2 linked regions of the Homo sapiens genome follow. The protein of the gene in region 1 interacts with the protein of each later gene in a pairwise test. Each region holds a gene or a part of one and is shown on either strand. Other genes may lie near its edges.

What was found. The genes of interacting proteins can lie anywhere in the genome.
Region 2: the proteins of SHTN1 (region 1) and DSCAM interact in a two-hybrid assay, tested with the Homo sapiens proteins (one large-scale study listed by BioGRID and IntAct).

Annotation. Positions count from the first base shown.
Region 1 is NC_000010.11:116,998,572-117,002,227, forward strand, and holds part of SHTN1 (shootin-1), read right to left. Parts: intron 1-3,656. UniProt on the Homo sapiens protein: Involved in the generation of internal asymmetric signals required for neuronal polarization and neurite outgrowth.
Region 2 is NC_000021.9:40,837,008-40,840,663, forward strand, and holds part of DSCAM (cell adhesion molecule DSCAM isoform CHD2-42 precursor), read right to left. Parts: intron 1-3,656. UniProt on the Homo sapiens protein: Cell adhesion molecule that plays a role in neuronal self-avoidance. Promotes repulsion between specific neuronal processes of either the same cell or the same subtype of cells.

The DNA.
Region 1 (3,656 bases):
GGAATATATAGGGTTTGTTATTATCCATGATTTCAGGCACCTACTGCAGGTGTTGAAACATAGCTTCCTCCATGGGTAAGCAGGGACTACAGTATCTCCATCAATGTCAGCTTATCAGTTGGTGCATTTCCTTAGTTTCCACACTACAAGATGCCCTAGGCTCATCTTGTATATTTCCTGCCCCTTTCCTAAAATTAGCCATTTCTCCTAGGAACCCTGTTCGTTTTATTCGAGAATGGCATTAGAAGCCAAGTTCTGGGCTCTAGATGTGCTCATTGATACTGGTGCATCTAGGCTCTCTCAGCTGACAGAGCAAGAAAATATATGTATATACCAACATATATATATATGTGTAACCATCCATACCTGTATTAAGCTAAACATGAGTTCACACTGATGTCTCCAACATGAATCCAGTGCCAAAAGCATTTTCTTTTTAGAGAGATGGGGTCTCACTACATTGCCCAGGCTGGTATCAAACTCCTGGGCTCAAGGTATCCTCCTACCTTGGCCTCCCAAAGTGCTGGGATTATACGCGTGAGCCAACACAACCAGCCCAGAAGCATTATTTGTAATAGCAAAAACAAGGAAAGAAAGATAGAAATGTCCATCCAGAGGACATTAAATACATTGTGGTACGTCTGTACATTGGAACATTAATCAATTTTTAATGACAACGCTACATGTACTAATATAAAAAATTACATATTACATGATAAATACATATGCACATACAAACACAATTTCTGGAAGGAAAGAAAACAAAAGGTTAACAGTAGTTAACTTTGGGAAATGGGAATGGGGTCATAGCATGCATTGTCAATGTAGTGATTTCATCCTCAAGGAGATAAGAGAAAAGATCTTGGATATTACAATGGCTTATGGCCCTTCAAAGAGTCACAGTGCATAAAACGCCTAAAAAGTTTCCTTAGGAGAGTGATAATGAAATAAAGATTGAGAAACAATGGGTCAGATAGAATAGTTAATTGTACTTTTCACTTTACACACTTGTTTTCTATGAGCATGTGTTTATTTTTGCATTTATTTTAAAAAAGGTTCACAGCTGGGTGCGGTGGCTCACGCCTGTAATCCCAGCACTTTGGGAGGCCTAGGCGGGTGGATCACAAGGTCAGGAGTTCGAGACCAGCCTGACCAACATAGTGAAACCCCATCTCTACTAAAAATACAAAAATTAGCCGGGTGTGGTGGCACATGCCTGTAGTCCCAGCTACTTGGGAGGCTGAGGCGGAAGAATTGCTTGAACCTGGGAGGCGGAGGTTGCAGTGAGCCGAGACCACGCCATTGCACTCCAGCCTGGGTGACAGAGTGAGACTCTGTCTCAAATAAATAAATACATAAATAAATAAATAATATTAAGGAAATAGTGAAATTCTGACTAGAAGACATAGTTCCTTAGCCCACACTGCATGTTCATCTCATGGGGGGTTGCCAAACTGTTGTTCTTCAGCAACCACTCCCTAACTTTCAGAGGAAAATGCATTGTTGATAAGTACCTGGTGATTCAGATGCAGCTGGCCCTTGTACCACACTTTGAAAAATACTGATGTAAAACCAAGTTTGCACTTGAAAACAAGGCAACATTTAATTCCAAACAGCTTTCTACTGGCTGATCTCATATGCACCCAAGATTGTCAATGCTTCCGTTTTCCCAGACTGACGTGGTCATTGTGGTAGGCAATAGTTTCAGACTGTTTTGTCAAAATAATGCTCCAGTTATTTCCTGGCCTAGAAGCCAATGGAATACTGGATGCATCTTTTAATTACTAACTTGCTCTAAGAATAAGCTTGACTAGATTTCCATGTGAACTTAAGTATCATCTCAATAATCTTGGGGAAAACGATACTAACTCTAAAGGTGAAAAGAGGTTTAAAATTGCTTTAAAACCAATTACCTCACCATAGGAAATCCATTTTAAATACTGTTAGCCCAAAAATTGCCCATTATTGGGGTGGTGGTGGTTGTTTTCCTCTTATGTATGTCCTTATTATTAAATAGCCATCTCTCTTCAAAATTTCATCAACTTGGAAATGACATGGCATTACTACACTGAACAGTTTAGCAGACATGTGTTGTCTGTGTCTGCCCGGTCAGCATCCTCATGGTAGTGCACCCCATTCTGTTTTGGACTATTCCTCCAATCTTTGCAGGGGCTGCCAATTAAAGTATCCTGCCCTCCCGTGGCCAAAGTATTTGAATACATGAGATTGGCCAAACTAGGCCAATCAGACACTCCTCCTGGAATTTACATGCCTAGCACTATCTCTAGACCAGGAACTCCTCACCAGCAGAGGCAAGGTCTTATTCAGCTCTATCTCTCTGATGCCTAGCACAGTGCCTGGCTATGAATATTCAATGCATGTGGGCTGAATGAATTATACAGAAAATCATGCACCTTAAACAAATGCTGAACTAAGTCTATCATTTTCCCACTGAATTCCGGAGGGGGAGCAAATTGTATGATGTTTTGTAAGGGAAATATCCACTTTAGTAGCTAGGAAATATGCCTCGGAAATAGTATCCAAAGTTGCCATTTCTCGGTGCATTAAAGATGTCAATCAGTCCAATAAAATAAAGCCCCAAAAAAGACAAAAGGAGAATTACCTCATTACCTCAACATCTGCTTGAACATAAGCAATCACACACTGGCTAATTTTTTTTAAAGGGACATAATATAACTTTCTGGAAAGACATAATATAGCTAATTATACCATTCACTAGGAGGGAACATAAAATGTTTTGAAGTAATTCAGAAGTGGGTGTGATTTATAAGACATAGAGCTTAGGGAATGGTAAGTATAAATTAGAGATTGTTCATATTATGACAGACTCCGTCATTACATTTCACAACTTTTGTCAAAAGCAACCTTATTCACCACACCACTAAAGGCTTCACGTTAGGGAAGGCTGCTGTCAGCTTTGTGGTTTAGAGTAGACAGGAATCTCCTTTCTGAACACTCTCCTGGGGAACTGGTTCAAGTTTTAGACTTAAAACTTACTAAGGCAGGGCAAAATGAAGAGAGATTGTTTAATGGGTTCAAACATAGTTAGATACAAGGAGTAAGTTTTAACATTTTGATAGCAAAGTAGGGTGACTACAGTTAACAACAATGTATTATATATTTCAAAAGAGATAGAAGAGAGGACTTGAAATGTTCTCAACTCATTGAAATGATAAATACTGGAGGTAATGGATATCCCAAATACCCTGACTTGATCATTATGCATTCTAAGCATGTAACAAAATACCCCATGTCTTCTATAAATATGTACAAGTCTCATGTATCAGTTTAAAAAAAAATCACTAAGGAAGGACCCATATGATGAAACCTAAATGGCCAATGGCCATGTAAAAAGATTTCAAACATCACTAATAACCAGAGCAATGCAAATCTTAAAAGGTAACATTCTGCCCATTAGATTGGCAAAAATTCAAAAACTTGTCAGGCCATCAAATGAATAAAGATTGCTATTAGCCAGAGTTGACCAATGTGTGGGGAAATGGGTACTGCTGAAGGATATCTGAACTGGTATAATCATTTTGGAGGGCACTTTTGCAATGTCTAGCAAAAGTAAATGTCCGTGCCCTCTAATCCAACAATTCCATTTCTTCTAAGAATCTATCCTAGAATAAAAA
Region 2 (3,656 bases), on another chromosome or scaffold:
CCCAGAACACCGGGGTGTTGAGAACCAGTGTCCTCGATCCTTACCTGGGAAGGCCCACATAGAAGGATACTAACTAATGTTCAGCTTGAAGTGTCAACAGACTGTGGTCTACCTCTTATCCTGATGTAAGGGTGGAGGGGATGTGTGGCTATGGGGCTGGCACAGCCTCTTCCTCCATATTCAGTGTTCCCATGAACATTTGCCTCCGCTGCCTCCAAGCATCTAATCCCACAGAAGCCTACAGCATATTCTATATTCTTACTCTCCCATCCTCAGCAATGGGGCGGTAGAGGTATGGGGGAGAGTGTGGGGCCCCTCGTGCCTGTGATTAATAAAGGCTGATGATGTGAGATCCCCCAAGACACAAATAAACCAACCACTGATGAGAGTTCCTTGCCCAAAACAAATACCTAGATCACCTCGAGGTCCACATTTTTCTACCCAGATTTCTATACAAATATTCAATGAAGCCTATTCTAAAACAGTAGCCACCAAGGATTTAATAGCTATTGATTTGGGTGAGTCATAACAGACACATCTGGTAATTAACCATCCTACCCACATTCTGCTGTCACGTTAAGGACCCGGATAGAGGTTGCTAACTTGGGCTGCCAACTTAAACAACTTGTGAAAGGAGGATTCTGTCTGTTAGACAGCATTCCACATTTCTTGTGCATTTCCTTTTCACTAGCCAACGAAATAGACAAGTGACTAGCCTTTGCAGGAACTGACAAGAACTAGATCCGGCAGGAGTGATAAAGTAGTCATGGTTCCCGTTTTGCTGGTAGAGGCCATTGTTGTCATTGTTGGGTGTCTTCAGCTCATTCCTAAAGTCTCACAGGTAATATTCCAAAGCATTGTTATTTCTACCCTGCAAGCTACATATCAGTTATTAAAAATGCTCTACAGCCGAGATTAAAAAATAAACATGGCAATTAAGCAGACTGGGACTTGGATTTTCTGTATCTCTATGGAACCCAAGATCAAATCACACCACAGCGGGGCTAACTGTGAAAAGAATTGAATCTTGAGTTTCTCTCGTGAGAAAGTATATTTCCTTAAAGTAATAAGTTTCCTTATTATATAGGAAATATAGCTGTCTTTTGTATTTAAAAAAATAAATTAAATTAAAATATACATAGAATTGCAGCAGTTCTAATTATCTTTCTACTTGTCTTTCTCTTATGATACAATCACAGAAATGTTCCCATCATCCAGCAGTTCATGCTTATGAGAAGAATCAATGCTTTACTCAATATTAGGAAGATTAATCAATGGTAAGAGAGTCCACTGCAATCACCCACCTGAAGTGGCATGGATGGCTCTTCAGTATACGGCATGGGCTACCTCCCAACAGCCCCCCTCAGCCCCTGTGACCCATTCACGCTGGTCCTAACACCAGCTTCTACCTGATCATTGTGGTGACTCCATGATAATGCTGAAGCCACTTTGGGACCCTCAGGTCATCAAGGTCAACACTGGGAGTGGTATCACCATACTGCTGTTTTGCAGAAGCATCCAATAATGAGAAAGTTGGGATATTTAGAAAGAACTATAAGCTGGCTTTTACTGTTTTATTTTCAGTGTGAAAAAAGTGTAAATTTTATGTAAAACCAGACTTAAAACTGTTTCCTGTTTCTTCATTTTAATACTAAAAGAGTCAAGGCTTGTATGAATCAAAATCAGTAATTAAATAGTTCAAATTTCTTTCCATCACCTTATCAAAATGCCAATTTCATAGTCTGGAGAGACTAGCGACAAAATGATCCATTTTATAGATGGTTCTTTATAAGACAAAAGGCAAACACTTTCCACAGCATCATCTTCTAGGGCAGGTCTGATTTTGTCCAGATTTCCAACCTGTAAATCAGCAGTATTTGCATAAAAATTCAACGATTCTACTATTAATAAAACCCAAAGCCCACTTGGAACCAGGAAAACCAGAATGCTATAAGTAACAAATACAGGCCTAGAAAGGAAAACTATTTCATTTCTTTTTTTATGCTAAATTGTATATACTTAAGGAACCTGGGGGACATTAGCTAAGTGATATATGCCAGACACACACATACAAAATCCATGATCTCACTTATATATGGAATCTTATAAAGACTATTTCATTTATAAGAGCATGTGGCATTCTTTTTCCCTTGTCCAATAACATTTGTGTCAATCACAAAGCCTGGGGTGATATTGTCTGCCCGACACAGACTGACAAATAAGGACTTCATATATTGCAATTTAAAACCCCAGAGTTTGAGAACAGGTTAACATGGAGGGACTTGTGATAATCACAGGATCCTAAATTTGAACTCTTCTCTCAGTAATTGCTTTATTACTGAGATGTATGCAGATTTCACCCTCCTACTATTCTGCCGTGAAACATCTTTAAGAAAGGCAAGGCTTATTGCAGAATAAATATTTGTAGCAGTGCTGCAAGTTCAATGTCCTCCCTTCACCTCCAGTCTTTTGTTCAGACCTACTCAAGCTGTTTCCAGATAATATATATATTGCCTTCTCATCCCCAGCTTCCCAAGCCTAACATAGACTTAAAGACTGAGAGCACTTCTAGAATATTCTGCAGAGAGTCCAAAGAGATTTCATAATATTTCTGCAAGGGTTGGTATGCTTTTTTTTTTGTTTTTTTCTCCTACAAAATGCTGTACAGAGCTGGGACGTTAGGGGAAGCTAGCATTTAGTATGGAGGTGATCTCTTGCATTTTCAATTCTTTCTTTCACTGTCTTTGCGGCTGCACTTAAAAACAGCTTTCTATAAATAGGACTGCTTGCTCACTCTTAAATCTTACTCACTGTCTTCTCAGTAAAAAAAATAACTAGGGATACAGGCAAGATTCATTAATCCCTGTCATTCTAACTCTCTGTGTAGTAGCCTCTTTCCTTCTTCATATCTTGACATATATCTTCTCAATCCCATTCATCCCTCTCTGTTAAACCATAATATGTATTTACATAATCCAGGGGGCTTCAAGATCAAAAATTAATCCAGTTGCATGATTTTTAAAAAATCAGCGTTGATCACATAGAACAAATAGAGATGTCCAAAAATCAAAAGCTGATAAATATTGTAAGCTATAAGACACTTAATTTGATTTTTATATTTGGACAAAAATCAACTTTAACAATGATTAAGATATCCTTTCATGTTACTTTGATGAAGATAGCAACTGTCATATTTGAATCTGCAAAATAAGAAATAAAGATAATGACAAAAAACCCATAAATCCATAGGATGCTGAAGAAAACAGTAGTATGACTTTTTAAAGATGAATTAAGGCCTGAGAAAGTAAGCTTTGTTTTGATGTCCTGGGTGGCTCTTTGATGAAGAAATGAATTCCCAAGAGCTGGGGGTGGCGGAGTGGGCGGGGAACCTAAATGTCGGTTTGATGTTTCTGGCTGGCTTTCAAAATGCGACAGGGCAATAAACACTGTATAGGAATTTTAAATCATGCCATTTAGCAGCGTACACTTGAGAACAAGGGGTCCAGCACATGGATGAAATTATTGTCTGTGACACTTGACCCACTGCACGGCAGGAAGAGCACCTAAAGCAATTACATAGCTGTTGTGCAACAGTGATGAAGTCCCATCAGATACTCGAAATATGAATCTCTTTTTGAAAAGAGAAGAAAATGCCC